Linked DNA regions of Homo sapiens: all the other regions are reported to be linked to region 1. The links are microRNA targets in miRTarBase. Many come from high-throughput screens and were not tested one by one. Region 1 holds a microRNA gene; each other region holds the end of a gene's coding sequence.
The links. Region 1 holds the annotated microRNA hsa-miR-29a-3p (UAGCACCAUCUGAAAUCGGUUA, at 2,929-2,950, shown strand). A microRNA usually pairs through its seed, bases 2 to 8, with sites in the 3' UTR of a target mRNA and lowers its output. Matches are read on the target gene's strand: a 7mer-m8 pairs with bases 2 to 8, a 7mer-A1 pairs with bases 2 to 7 and ends in A, and an 8mer does both.

Region 1 (4,646 bases):
GTAAAAGAAATTCATTCTTCAGGAAAAATTTTCCCCATAACTGAAGTGTCAATCATTTGAAAAAACTTCTAGGCAGTAGGCAAACACTGTGACTAGTTATTTATCAAAAATAAGCAGACTTTAGAGTTTTGTAACTGATGAGAATAATCTGGCTGCTTCTTTTGTACTTCAGTCACTGATACTGCGAATTAGAGTAGCATATACAGAAGGATGCAGGGGGTCCCTAAAGGAATCACAGAATTAGTGAAACCATTATTTGAGAGTTGCAGTGATTCTTCTGTCCTGGCACTTTTCCCAGTTTTGGTGCTTAAATTTACTATCCACTTGAAATGTGTCACTGCCTGTCACTTCACAAAGTATGTGCCTTTCACTGCAGTCAACAAGCTGTTTACATCTTTGATGAAATGATTGCCACGCATCTCCATAGCCCTGGTGTTCTATTCCCTTATTCACAGAGATTTTTTTTAAAAACCAGCCTAGCAGCAATAGGTATGTGCTGTGGATGCTTCTCCATGATGATAAAGGATGAGTTTGTGCTGGGATCTCCTTATGAAAAGATAACTGGCCAAGCCCATGAGGAACAAGAATGTTATGCTAATCAGACCCAAGGTAAACAGCCTGCAGTGCACCTCCTGACTGATTAGCACTGAACCCACTTGGAATCATCAACCACAGGCACGTGGTAATTGGATGTTCTTCTAATACACATAGTGAGATTGTAAAATGAGGATGATATATGAGGAAAGTCAGACGGAGAAACTAAAGTTCAGTTCTTAAATACAAGCCAAGGGAACAGACTAAGTGAATGGTACAGCCAGGATTGGAGCCTGGTTTTCACAAGGTGGTATGTCATGATAAAACAAGCCAAAGAAAAGGTTGGGTAGTGTTTTGAGGCTAAAAGAGACCAAAGAGTCTTAGTGAATCAACCTTGATGCGATCTGGGTTTGAAAAACCTATAAAAAACCTTTTGTTTGGAGAAAGTGGGAGAAGTTGGATGTAGGCTGGATATTTGTGGGTACCAAGGAATTGTTTGTTTTCTTAGGTATGGTAAGATTTTGTGGTTATGTAGAAGAGTGTCTTCATTTTATAGAACGACCTCAAAGTAGTTAGGAGCAGTGTATGTATGGGTGGTTATCAATTTACTTTCAAACAATGCAGCAAAAAATATGTATCTATATTACATATAATTAAAGCAAAACATGATAAAAAGGAATAGTTATTGAATTTAGATAGTATGGATTTAGGAATTCATTGTATTGTCATTCCAATTTAATGTATAAAATTTTTTATAACAGTTTATAAAAACAGTGCACACCCCTTTAATTAGGTGGCCTGGGTACATGAAGTATCTTTTTGGATGCCTAGAACACAAAAAGGGACGACAACAGGCCACCTAATAAGATGATACCAAGAACTATACCATGACGGCGAAAAAGAACTGCTGCAAAAAATAATTTGCCAAGGAGAACTCAGAGTACAAAGCCTTACCTTTGGAGTAGAGGGAAGGAGAGTCTTAAGTAAAGCTCACAAAAACCCCTAACTCATAGATGCAGTCTAAGGAATTCATTCCGGAAGCGACATTAGCATCTCATTAGTGCCATTATGTGACTTACTTGGCCTCTGAGCTAGTCTATTTTCTTCCCTAGACCCCAAAATCTCAGTAATCCTTTGGATCCAAGTTATCTCCAAGTGAAAATAATAGGTTTAGGAAAGCGTTTTTCTTCAACTTCTATGGAGCACTTGCTTGCTTTGTCCTATTTGCATGTCCGACGGACGGTTCTCCAGCACCACTGCTAGTCGTCCTCCGCCTGCCTGGGTACTTGATCACAGGATGCCTCTGACTTCTCCTGCCTTTACCCAAGCAAAGGATTTTCCTTGTCTTCCCACCCAAGAGTGACGGGGCTGACATGTGCCCTTGCCTCTAAATGATGAAGCTGAACCTTTGTCTGGGCAACTTAACTTAAGAATAAGGGAGTCCCAGGCATGCTCTCCCATCAATAACAAATTCAGTGACATCAGTTTATGAATATATGAAATTTGCCAAAGCTCTGTTTAGACCACTGAGTAACTCACAGCTAGGTTTCAACTTTTCCTTTCTAGGTTGTCTTGGGTTTATTGTAAGAGAGCATTATGAAGAAAAAAATAGATCATAAAGCTTCTTCAGGAAGCTGGTTTCATATGGTGGTTTAGATTTAAATAGTGATTGTCTAGCACCATTTGAAATCAGTGTTCTTGGGGGAGACCAGCTGCGCTGCACTACCAACAGCAAAAGAAGTGAATGGGACAGCTCTGAAGTATTTGAAAGCAACAGCAGGATGGCTGTGAGAACCTGCCTCACATGTAGCTGACCCCTTCCTCACCCCTGCCAACAGTGGTGGCATATATCACAAATGGCAGTCAGGTCTCTGCACTGGCGGATCCAACTGTGATCGAAAGTTTTCCAAAAATAAGTTGTGTCTGTATTGAACATGAACAGACTTTCTTCTTGTCATTATTCTCTAACAATACTGCATAACAATTATTTGCATACATTTGCATTGCATTAAGTATTCTAAGTAATCTAGAGACGATTTAAAGTATACGGGAGGATGTGTGTAGGTTGTATGCAAATACTACACCATTTTCTATCAGAGACTTGAGCATCTGTGGATTTTGGTATCCAAGGGGCTTTCTGGAACCAATCCCTCAAGGATACCAAGGGATGAATGTAATTGTACAGGATATCGCATTGTTGGAATTTTATACTTCTTTGTGGAATAAACCTATAGCACTTAATAGATAGTACAGACTCATTCCATTGTGCCTGGGTTAAAGAGCCCAATGTATGCTGGATTTAGTAAGATTTGGGCCCTCCCAACCCTCACGACCTTCTGTGACCCCTTAGAGGATGACTGATTTCTTTTGGTGTTCAGAGTCAATATAATTTTCTAGCACCATCTGAAATCGGTTATAATGATTGGGGAAGAGCACCATGATGCTGACTGCTGAGAGGAAATGTATTGGTGACCGTTGGGGCCATGGACAAGAACTAAGAAAACAAATGCAAAGCAATAATGCAAAGGTGATTTTTCTTCTTCCAGTTTCTAAGTTGAATTTCACTGACCTGAATTGCATGTGGTATAATACTAACAAATGGTTCACTATTAGCATATCATGAATGGTTATACTTTATAGAAATTCCATAGACTTGGTGGGGGTTTTGTTTTGGTGACGGATACCTAGAAACACTCCTGGGGAAAATCGATGACTGGCTTAGATGATGGGAAAGGAGCAGCGAGGGAGTCAATTCTGTTGTTGATGAGAAGCTGCACCAGCTATCTCTGAACTCTCCTCTCTTAGCTGGCTGAGGAGTTCCCTCCATGGTTAAACAGGTCATTTTCTTACATAAGGAAAAATGGTCCAGAGAAACTGGGTTTCTATGGCTGAGACAGAACTGTGCTAATATGTGTCAGTTCAGTTTAGAAGGCAAAGCAACAAAAGCAGGTGCTACTTGAACTAGGATCCTAGAGTATACCTTTGATATGGTTTGGATGTTTGTCCCCTCCAATCTCATGTTGAAGTGTGATCCCCAGTATTGGGGGTGGGGCCTGGTGGGGGTGGTTGAGTGATGGGGCGGATCCCTTGTGAATGGCTTGGTGATGTCCTCACTTAACGAGTTCCTGCTCAGTTAGAGGGAGCCGGTTGTTTAAAAAAGCTGGCACCTCCTTCCTCTCTCTTGCTCTTTCTTTCTTGCTCCCTCTCTCGCCATGTGACATGTCTGCTCCCTCTCCGCCTTCCACCATGTATAAAACATCCTGAGGCCTCATCAGGAGCCGAGCAGGTACCAGTGCCATGCTTGTACGGCTGCAAAACTGTAAGCCAAATAAACCTCTTTACTATATAAATTACCCAGTCTCGGGTATGTCTTTATAGCAGCGCAAAACGGACTAACACAACCTCACTAGAAGTGAAGTCATTAGACCAAAAACAATACTGAGTTTTTAGGTCCACTAAGAGGCAAAAATAAAAGGCTCTTTATAGCAGCATGATTTATAATCCTTTGGGTATAAGCACATGTATGCTAGAACTTAAAGTATAATAATAAAATATAAAAATAATAAAATAAAATAAAAGGCTCAAGAATGAGCCATCTCGGCCGCTCCTCCTCCAGGGGCCCCTGTGTGCAGCTCCCAACACAGGTACTGCACAGACCGGCCACCTGCTGTCCCCATGTGGCGTCCTGGAGAACTGCAGGGGCACCTGGTGGAATTTGGGCCTTGTCCTTCTGTTTTCTTTCTGGCCTGGAAAAGCCACTGGCCTCACAATCAAGAGTTAATATTCTATCTACCCTGCTTAAGCTTTCCCGCCCTCTCACACTGCCTCCCTCCTTTTCCCTCCTGCCTGTCACTTGTCTGGAAAAGGCCTTTTCTCCTCGGGGCTAACACATGCAATTTGTAGCCAAAACATTCTGTCTACCACACAAATCCAACGAGAATCAGGATCATTCCACCACATCTTTTTCTATCCCATGGTTATTATTTTCCCAAAACTCTTGTCTTTTGCTTTCTTACCTATTCGCTGTTTTCCCTAAGTAATCTTATTTACTCCCCTGGTTCCAAATACATCCCTATGTGTTGATTTCCCTCAAACCAGAGGTCTGGCCTGGG
Region 2 (3,419 bases), not on the chromosome of region 1:
TTGAATTTAATCCAATCCGGGTCCGGACTCATTACCTCCACACCATTATGAAGCTGGAGCTGGAGAGCAAGCGGCAGGTGAGCCGCCCAGCAGCCCCAGATGAGGAGCCCTCCCCGACTGCCAGTTGCAGCCTGACAGGAGCACAGGGCTCTGAGACCCAGGACTTCCAGGAGTTCATTGCTGAGAATGAGACAGCAGTGATGCACCTGCAGAGTGCAGAGGAACTGGAGCGGCTCAAGGCAGAAGAAGATTCCAGCGGCTCTAGTGCCAGCCTGGACTCGAGCATCGAGAGCCTGGGTGTGTGCATCCTAGAGGAGCCTCTGGCTGTCCCCGAAGAGCTGTGCCCAGGCCTTACAGCCCCCATTCTCATCCAGGCTCAGCTGCCCCCAGGCTCCTCTGTCCTGTGTTTTACCGAGAACTCAGACCACCCAACTGCCTCAACGGTGAACAGCCCATCCTACTTGAACAGTGGGCCCCTGGTCTATTATCAAGTGGAGCAGAGGCCAGTCTTGGGAGTGAAAGGAGAGCCTGGTACGGAAGAAGGCTCAGCCTCTTTCCCAAAGGAGAAGGATCTGAATGTCTTCTCTCTCCCTGTTACCTCACTCGTGGCTTGTAGCTCCACAGACCCAGCTGCCCTCTGTAAATCAGAGGTGGGGAAAACACCCACCCTAGAAGCTCTATTGCCCGAAGATTGTAACCCTGAGGAGCCTGAAAATGAAGACTTCCACCCTTCCTGGTCCCCCTCAAGCCTCCCCTTCCGCACGGACAATGAAGAGGGCTGTGGGATGGTGAAGACCTCCCAGCAGAATGAGGATCGGCCCCCTGAAGATTCTTCCTTAGAACTCCCTCTGGCAGTGTGACAGGCGCTAGAGGTCCTGCCTCTTACCCATTCTCTATTTATTCCCTTATTTTATCTAACACCATTTCAAAACAAAACTGTAGAAGCAGCTGCTGCTCCCATGTTATTTTATTGGGGTCTTTGGGGAATGGGTGGGAAAGGATTGTTTGAGTATTTTTTAAAAGGGAAACAGTACCAAGGAGACCAGCCCTACCTTGATCTGGGGATAGTCTTGGGGCAAAGAAAGCTGCGTAGTGCTGAACATTAAGCTTTCTGGGCCACTGGAACAAAGAACTAGGATCTCACAGGAAAAGCTGGGTAACTCAAGCAGCTATTCTTTCTGTAGGGACCAGAACACGAGAATTTGAAGAGCATGGCAAAGCCCTTTCTCTCCCAAGCCCCAGGCAGAGTACAAGCTCATTTTTCTCGGTGGTTATTCTGATATCCCATTTTGGTGTGTCATAATACTTCAAACTGGAAAGTCACCTGGTCGAGTCTAGGGAGGAGGGAGTGGAAGGGTCTCTGCTTCTGTACAAAATCTCCAGGATTTACAAAAATGTAACCTGCCTTCCTTCAATCCCATATTTGGTAAATAAGTTAATATTTGACATGTTTGGTGTTCTCTGACCTGTTCCCCACACTGGGGATTCCTGGTCTGTAACTTGAATTGTTTCTTCCACATGTTCTTAAGTACTAGAGTTAAACTTGTCTATGTGTCTTTTTTCTCTCCATCCTTTTTCCTTCGGAGAAAGAGCTGGATTGGCTGGGGATATGGTATAACGAGCCTGAGCCTTCTGTACGTGTCTGACACTAGCACTGTCAGGCAGCTTTCGGCTGGGGCTCACCCATCCCATAGGAGGCCTATGTGGAGCATTAACTGTGGCCAAAGGAGGCAGCGGGAACAGGCTGCTTGCTATCTGGAAAGATGACATATTTGTGCCATGCTTGTTTTTTCACCCAGGTTTTTCCCTCTTTGTGAGATCTGAGCTTTAGTGGAATGTAGAATGTGGCAATCTTAAGGTCACCAATCAGTTTTTGTTCTTTTTTCCTGGATCTACCCTCATGGTCGTTTTCAACATAGCGGGTTAGAGTTCTTATACTGTTCCAGTTCAATTCCAAGAATTGCAAATGTTTATTGGACCCCTCCATCTTGATGATATATAAAAATTGGAAGCCAAACCAGTTCTTAAATGCTACATGCAACTCCCAGATTCCAAAGGATTCAAGTTCTAATTATAACCTTTGAAGCGTATAGAATGGAACTCATTCAGTTTGATTCAGTTCTTACCTCTGTCAGGAGGAATACAGTTCCTGTTCATCCTGTGTTCTAAGATCTCCATTGAACAGCACTGATTTCCTTTCATTAGCAAAGTGATCTTTGTCTCTGTTCTAAAATGGAGGCAGTAGGGAGCAAAACTATTCTTCTCAAGCATCCTTTACACCATACTTTACTTCTGGTATGGTTTATTAACCACACACACACACAAAAGTGAAAAACTGTGTTGGGGGGGAGACACTACTCCTACTTATCTTGCTCATAAAGCCTTTTCTGGTGGGATATTAAGGCCCTGGTGTCTTACAGAAACCATCACGTATGTCGCAGCAGCATTTCACCCCTGAAGTCTCTAAACTCTGAGCCTGAAAAGATTTGTATTTAATACACATAACATTTTTTAGTTCATTCTGCCTTTCCTATTTGTTCCAGTTTTTGCTTGGTTTTAGTTTGGAGGGGAACTTAAGTACACAGATCCTTATCTCTCCCCATCCCCTAGCCTCACAAAACACAGTTGAGAGTCTTTTAAGTACCTGAGCTCTCGAAGCTACCCAGAACTGAACTAGACTCCCCTACCTTAGACTGGTACCCTCAAACACAGGACTGAAGCTTAATTGGGAATTTGGCTTTATGGAGAAAAGAATCTTTTTCAAAGTTTGTGTCGGAAGGGGAGGGTGAGGTTTGCCCACTGTCTCTGCAGGAAGGCTCCGGCTTAATCTAGGAAGTAGATTCCAGCTGCACGATGAGGAACACATTAGCTTTTGGGATCAAACCAGGAATATGAATCTGTAATTATTAAGCTCATTGCCAACCCACAAGATATGTTTCTGAAAACCTGTAGTTTCTTAATTTAAGTCCATCCCCTTCATTAACGCTACAGTTGTGACTCACACTGATCCCAAACTTTTAAGTGCTAAATATTAACATTTAGCATTAACTGTCTTGTCAAGCGAAAGGCCTTCTCTACAACCTAGTCCATCTCACTTCTGGTGCTACCTGAGTTGGACAGAATTCTAGCTCATGGTTGCTAGGAAAGCTAGGCCTCTGATCATAGAAGCAGATAGCTTCAGTCCCAGTCTAGGCCTAGATAAATGACTCTTATTACCACAACCCTTATTATTTTCCAATTTCCTTTCTCACATACTGTACACAGGTAGTATTTTCAATGTGAATCCAAAGCTTGTCTGGTTCTCTGAAAATAATTTTTTCCCCTTTAGGTTCTTTACATTGTGATAATGCTGTATTTAAAGAGAATATTTAAATGTAATATTAAAGAAATATTCAAAAGAATGATGTGTTACTCTTTGT
Region 3 (3,419 bases), not on the chromosome of region 1:
TGAAGCATGATAGAGGTTTGAATCCATATAGTAAAGAAAGAACTGGATCCCTAAGATCTGATCCAGTTCTTCTGCAGACTTTCTTTGGTTCTTTTCCAAGTTATTTAACTTACTGAATCTCAGTCCCATGCTTAAAATTCCTTATTTCTAAAATGCGTAATTAATCCAAGATACTTTATTTTTTCCACCAATTTGTAAGTAAGTCTCCCCGCTTGCATATTGAGATATAAAACGAAAATAATACTAAATGGTGAATTATAGTTTCATTTGTGAAAAACAAAAAAGCTTTCATAATTTATGTTGCTAGTGACCATTTGGGAAGCTGCAGAAGAACAAAGGAAATTTACTTAAAGCATGAAAGAAATTCTGTTACATAAGTACACTAATATTTCACTTTATGTTTTCATTCCTTTTTTTTAAGTAGTACTCTAAAAATCATTGCCTTTACATTATAAAAGTGTCTGGGAAGGTTGCTGTCTAACATACTTGGAAAAAATTGTATGTACATTTAACCCATTGCATCATTTAATTTCAGAAGCGGAATGGAAATGTGGGCAAGACTGTCTTTGAATATAGAACACAGAATGTGGCACGCTTGCCCATCATAGATCTTGCTCCTGTGGATGTTGGCGGCACAGACCAGGAATTCGGCGTTGAAATTGGGCCAGTTTGTTTTGTGTAAAGTAAGCCAAGACACATCGACAATGAGCACCACCATCAATGACCACCGCCATTCACAAGAACTTTGACTGTTTGAAGTTGATCCTGAGACTCTTGAAGTAATGGCTGATCCTGCATCAGCATTGTATATATGGTCTTAAGTGCCTGGCCTCCTTATCCTTCAGAATATTTATTTTACTTACAATCCTCAAGTTTTAATTGATTTTAAATATTTTTCAATACAACAGTTTAGGTTTAAGATGACCAATGACAATGACCACCTTTGCAGAAAGTAAACTGATTGAATAAATAAATCTCCGTTTTCTTCAATTTATTTCAGTGTAATGAAAAAGTTGCTTAGTATTTATGAGGAAATTCTTCTTCCTGGCAGGTAGCTTAAAGAGTGGGGTATATAGAGCCACAACACATGTTTATTTTGCTTGGCTGCAGTTGAAAAATAGAAATTAGTGCCCTTTTGTGACCTCTCATTCCAAGATTGTCAATTAAAAATGAGTTTAAAATGTTTAACTTGTGATCGAGACCTACATGCATGTCTTGATATTGTGTAACTATAATAGAGACTCTTTAAGGAGAATCTTAAAAAAAAAAAAACGTTTCTCACTGTCTTAAATAGAATTTTTAAATAGTATATATTCAGTGGCATTTTGGAGAACAAAGTGAATTTACTTCGACTTCTTAAATTTTTGTAAAAGACTATAAGTTTAGACATCTTTCTCATTCAAATTTAAAGATATCTTTCTCCTCTTGATCAATCTATCAATATTGATAGAAGTCACACTAGTATATACCATTTAATACATTTACACTTTCTTATTTAAGAAGATATTGAATGCAAAATAATTGACATATAGAACTTTACAAACATATGTCCAAGGACTCTAAATTGAGACTCTTCCACATGTACAATCTCATCATCCTGAAGCCTATAATGAAGAAAAAGATCTAGAAACTGAGTTGTGGAGCTGACTCTAATCAAATGTGATGATTGGAATTAGACCATTTGGCCTTTGAACTTTCATAGGAAAAATGACCCAACATTTCTTAGCATGAGCTACCTCATCTCTAGAAGCTGGGATGGACTTACTATTCTTGTTTATATTTTAGATACTGAAAGGTGCTATGCTTCTGTTATTATTCCAAGACTGGAGATAGGCAGGGCTAAAAAGGTATTATTATTTTTCCTTTAATGATGGTGCTAAAATTCTTCCTATAAAATTCCTTAAAAATAAAGATGGTTTAATCACTACCATTGTGAAAACATAACTGTTAGACTTCCCGTTTCTGAAAGAAAGAGCATCGTTCCAATGCTTGTTCACTGTTCCTCTGTCATACTGTATCTGGAATGCTTTGTAATACTTGCATGCTTCTTAGACCAGAACATGTAGGTCCCCTTGTGTCTCAATACTTTTTTTTTCTTAATTGCATTTGTTGGCTCTATTTTAATTTTTTTCTTTTAAAATAAACAGCTGGGACCATCCCAAAAGACAAGCCATGCATACAACTTTGGTCATGTATCTCTGCAAAGCATCAAATTAAATGCACGCTTTTGTCATGTCAGTGGTTTTTGTTTTGTGAAATTCCTTTGACCATATTAGATCTATTTCATTTCCAATAGTGAAAAGGAGATGTGGTGGTATACTTTGTTTGCCATTTGTTTAAAAGATACAACGGATACCTTCTATCATGTATGTACTGGCTTATAAATGAAAATCTATCTACAACATTACCCACAAAGGCAACATGACACCAATTATCACTGCCTCTGCCCTTAAAAATGTCAGAGTAGTATTATTGATAAAAAGGGCAAGCAATAGATTTTTCATGACTGAATAAACTGTAATAATAAAACATATGTCTCAAAGTGTATCACATATGAATTTAGCCTAATTGTTTTCAGTTTCATTCTCAATATTTAGTTTACAACATCATTTTCCCCTAAACTGGTTATATTTTGACCTGTATATCTTAAATTTGAGTATTTATATGCCTAAATACATGTGTGAGTTTTGTTTGACTTCCAAGTCCAAACTATAAGATTATATAAGTTCATATAGATGAATCAGAAATATGTGGTAATACTATTAAGTCACAAACACTAACAATTTCCAACTATAGAAATAACAGTTCTTATTTGGATTTTGGGAATGCTACCAATAAAAGCCTGCCCAGACCATTCCAAAGCTCTCAAATTTCTTGCCTATATATTAGACCTGTCAGTGGATTTCTTTACTTTCATGTCCCATAGACACCTCAAATTCTACACTATAAAAAGTGAAATAATCTACATTTGGGGAGGATGGTGGCATACATTTATTGTTGATTTATTTAAAAAATACAAATGAAAATTCTCAAAATTAACAGAAATTTAAAAAAAGACAGCAGCGTCATTATCCATCCATTTAGGCAGGCCAGAAACCCGAGAGTCATTTTTGTCACCTCTCTCTCTCTCTCTCAGACCATGCCAGAGTACTGTCCTTCTTAAATATTTCTAATTCTGCCCCCTAAATATTCCCTAAGGTCATATCCTTCTCTTGATCTCCACTGCCGTTATCCTTGTCCACATGAATATTATGTCTCGCCTGAGCTTTTTCAATAGCCTCTGACAGGTTTTCAGGCATGCACTCTTTCCCTCTTCTGATCCATTCTTCTCACTACAGCCAGAGAAATCAATTTGAAATAAAAATCTGAATATGTCACCTCCCACTCCCCCCCGCCACCCTAGCTAACACAACACACAC
Region 4 (3,419 bases), not on the chromosome of region 1:
GGTAATGCCCTCATGGATGGAGCATCTCAGCTGATGGGAGAAAACAGGACCATGACCATTCACAACGGCATGTTCTTCAGCACGTATGACAGAGACAATGACGGCTGGTATGTGTGGCACTCTTTGCTCCTGCTTTAAAAATCACACTAATATCATTACTCAGAATCATTAACAATATTTTTAATAGCTACCACTTCCTGGGCACTTACTGTCAGCCACTGTCCTAAGCTCTTTATGCATCACTCGAAAGCATTTCAACTATAAGGTAGACATTCTTATTCTCATTTTACAGATGAGATTTAGAGAGATTACGTGATTTGTCCAATGTCACACAACTACCCAGAGATAAAACTAGAATTTGAGCACAGTTACTTTCTGAATAATGAGCATTTAGATAAATACCTATATCTCTATATTCTAAAGTGTGTGTGAAAACTTTCATTTTCATTTCCAGGGTTCTCTGATACTAAGGGTTGTAAAAGCTATTATTCCAGTATAAAGTAACAAACACAGTCCCTAGATGGATTGGCCACAAAGGCCCAGTTATCTCTCTTTCTTGCTATAGGGCACAGGAGGTCTTTGGTGTATTAGTGTGACTCTATGTATAGCACCCAAAGGAAAGACTACTGTGCACACGAGTGTAGCAGTCTTTTATGGGTAATCTGCAAAACGTAACTTGACCACCGTAGTTCTGTTTCTAATAACGCCAAACACATTTTCTTTCAGGTTAACATCAGATCCCAGAAAACAGTGTTCTAAAGAAGACGGTGGTGGATGGTGGTATAATAGATGTCATGCAGCCAATCCAAACGGCAGATACTACTGGGGTGGACAGTACACCTGGGACATGGCAAAGCATGGCACAGATGATGGTGTAGTATGGATGAATTGGAAGGGGTCATGGTACTCAATGAGGAAGATGAGTATGAAGATCAGGCCCTTCTTCCCACAGCAATAGTCCCCAATACGTAGATTTTTGCTCTTCTGTATGTGACAACATTTTTGTACATTATGTTATTGGAATTTTCTTTCATACATTATATTCCTCTAAAACTCTCAAGCAGACGTGAGTGTGACTTTTTGAAAAAAGTATAGGATAAATTACATTAAAATAGCACATGATTTTCTTTTGTTTTCTTCATTTCTCTTGCTCACCAAGAAGTAACAAAAGTATAGTTTTGACAGAGTTGGTGTTCATAATTTCAGTTCTAGTTGATTGCGAGAATTTTCAAATAAGGAAGAGGGGTCTTTTATCCTTGTCGTAGGAAAACCATGACGGAAAGGAAAAACTGATGTTTAAAAGTCCACTTTTAAAACTATATTTATTTATGTAGGATCTGTCAAAGAAAACTTCCAAAAAGATTTATTAATTAAACCAGACTCTGTTGCAATAAGTTAATGTTTTCTTGTTTTGTAATCCACACATTCAATGAGTTAGGCTTTGCACTTGTAAGGAAGGAGAAGCGTTCACAACCTCAAATAGCTAATAAACCGGTCTTGAATATTTGAAGATTTAAAATCTGACTCTAGGACGGGCACGGTGGCTCACGACTATAATCCCAACACTTTGGGAGGCTGAGGCGGGCGGTCACAAGGTCAGGAGTTCAAGACCAGCCTGACCAATATGGTGAAACCCCATCTCTACTAAAAATACAAAAATTAGCCAGGCGTGGTGGCAGGTGCCTGTAGTCCCAGCTACCTGTGAGGTGGAGATTGCATTGAGCCAAGATCTCAACACTGCACTCCAGCCTGGGCAACAGCGTGAGACTCCACCTCAAAAAAAAAAAAAAAAGAATCTGACTATATACCATGGAAAAGCCACCACTCTGCCACTTAAATAAACATCAGGATCAGAGATTCCAAGAGGACAATCTGCATCAAGTCTTCACCAAGTGTTTTTTAAGCGAAATAATGAAATAGGGAGCAGAATATGCCTGTTGCCCATAGAAACGAGGTCTATTCTTGTCCTCAATTAGGCTTTTTTTTCTTCATAGTTACACCAGAACTAAAGTAAAAGTGGTTTTTCTGTTCTTTCTACTTCTCCCCATGAAATGGGCATATCATCTCAACACTTCACTCCAAGTCGCCACGGGCAACCTTATGACCCTAGGTCCTCCACCCCTAATGTATCATCATTGCCACCCATTTTTATGGTACTTATTGTTCTTAAGCTTATCCTCTTAATCTTTTCATGTAAGCAAAGCTCATTAATTTCTGTCTTGGAAATGCTACTACTCTCTTTAATTACTCACCAAATCCAACTTTAACTTTTGACCTGGTTTCTCTGCCACAAGTTCTGTCCCACTGGAGCCCATACTCACCTACCGCTTTGCCATCACATTTAACAGAAAACTCTTATCAACTTACTTCCTGCTTAACATTAGCTCCTTCCTATCTATATCCAAATTTCTTAAATTCAAATTTTTTAGCTGGAGTAAAAATGGTCCCAGTACCATTTCCTGTTCCCTTCACTATAACCTACATTTTTGTCACATTAAGTTTTTCCCCATTCCAGGACAGGTCAGGCCCTTTAAAAATTTCAACAGCTTTATTGAGATATAATTGATATAATTTAAAAAATCCTGCACATGTGTCATGCTGGAGCCCTATTGATTCCAACAGGGATGGCGCCTTGTCCAAGAAGAGACCCAGAGCCAGTGAATGGGACATAGGGTTTATTTAGGACTTAAATACAGATGTGGTCCAGTGGCAGTGGGCTGGACAGGACCGCTACTATTTGTAAAGAGTATGTAGTTTATATAACATTTCTACTTAGCACTCTCCACTTAGCAACCTCCATTTAACCCAAAATAAAAGGCCTTGGTTCCTTGCACATCCTGAGTTCCAACGGACAGGCAGGGAGTTCAAGTGTCCTTCACAGATAAGAAGTGAATCTCTCTGGGTTGGCCATTCCCGGATTCCTTAGCTTAGACTCTGAACACATATTCTTCTTAGACCATACAGTCATTCTCAGGGTATGCTTGAGTTAATGCTGTCGGATGCATCTGTCATACAAAGTGTTTAACATATACGATTTCATGATTTTGGAAATATGCATACACCCATGATATCACTGGCACAGTCAAGATATTAAATATATCCATCACCTCCAAAAGTTTCCTTGTGTTCATTTATTTTAGTTTTTCATGGTAAGAACATTTAATATGAAATATTATCAACAAATTTTTAAGTGCACAATACTGTATTATTAATTTTAGGCATTATGTTGTACAGTAGATCTCTAGAACATATTCATCTACTAAAAATGAAATTTTATCTCCATTTCCCCCTACCTCCCATCCCCTGGCAACTACCATTCTATTTTCCACTTTGACTGTTTCAGATACCTCATATAAGTGAAATCACACAGTATCCTTTCGCACTGTTGTGGGGATGTAAAACGGTGCAGCTACCATGGG

Region 2: miRTarBase lists CSRNP2 as a target of hsa-miR-29a-3p. Seed matches in the 3' UTR shown: 8mer at 3,099-3,106.
Region 3: the mRNA of COL5A2 is a reported target of hsa-miR-29a-3p. Seed matches in the 3' UTR shown: 7mer-A1 at 1,795-1,801 and 8mer at 1,872-1,879.
Region 4: the mRNA of FGB is a reported target of hsa-miR-29a-3p. The part of its 3' UTR that is shown has no 7-base or 8-base seed match.

What each region holds. Positions count from the first base shown.
Region 1 is chr7:130,875,052-130,879,697 of GRCh38, reverse strand. MIR29A (microRNA 29a) reads left to right here and starts at 2,888; the gene lies at 2,888-2,951. MIR29B1 (microRNA 29b-1) reads left to right here and starts at 2,159; the gene lies at 2,159-2,239. It also overlaps a transcript of LINC-PINT not described here. RefSeq lists a silencer at 4,139-4,338 and an enhancer at 4,134-4,428.
Region 2 is chr12:51,061,187-51,064,605 of GRCh38, reverse strand. CSRNP2 (cysteine and serine rich nuclear protein 2) reads left to right here. Exons shown (of 5, transcript NM_030809.3): 5 at 1-3,401. The coding sequence ends at 860. It also overlaps a transcript of LETMD1 not described here. Among named protein-coding and RNA genes, the nearest start is that of LETMD1, 15 kb to the right of the region's middle.
Region 3 is chr2:189,031,333-189,034,751 of GRCh38, reverse strand. COL5A2 (collagen type V alpha 2 chain) reads left to right here. Exons shown (of 54, transcript NM_000393.5): 54 at 536-2,854. The coding sequence ends at 682. Among named protein-coding and RNA genes, the nearest start is that of MIR3606, 37 kb to the right of the region's middle.
Region 4 is chr4:154,569,693-154,573,111 of GRCh38, forward strand. FGB (fibrinogen beta chain) reads left to right here. Exons shown (of 8, transcript NM_005141.5): 7 at 1-107; 8 at 727-3,115. The coding sequence ends at 958. Among named protein-coding and RNA genes, the nearest start is that of FGB, 8.4 kb to the left of the region's middle.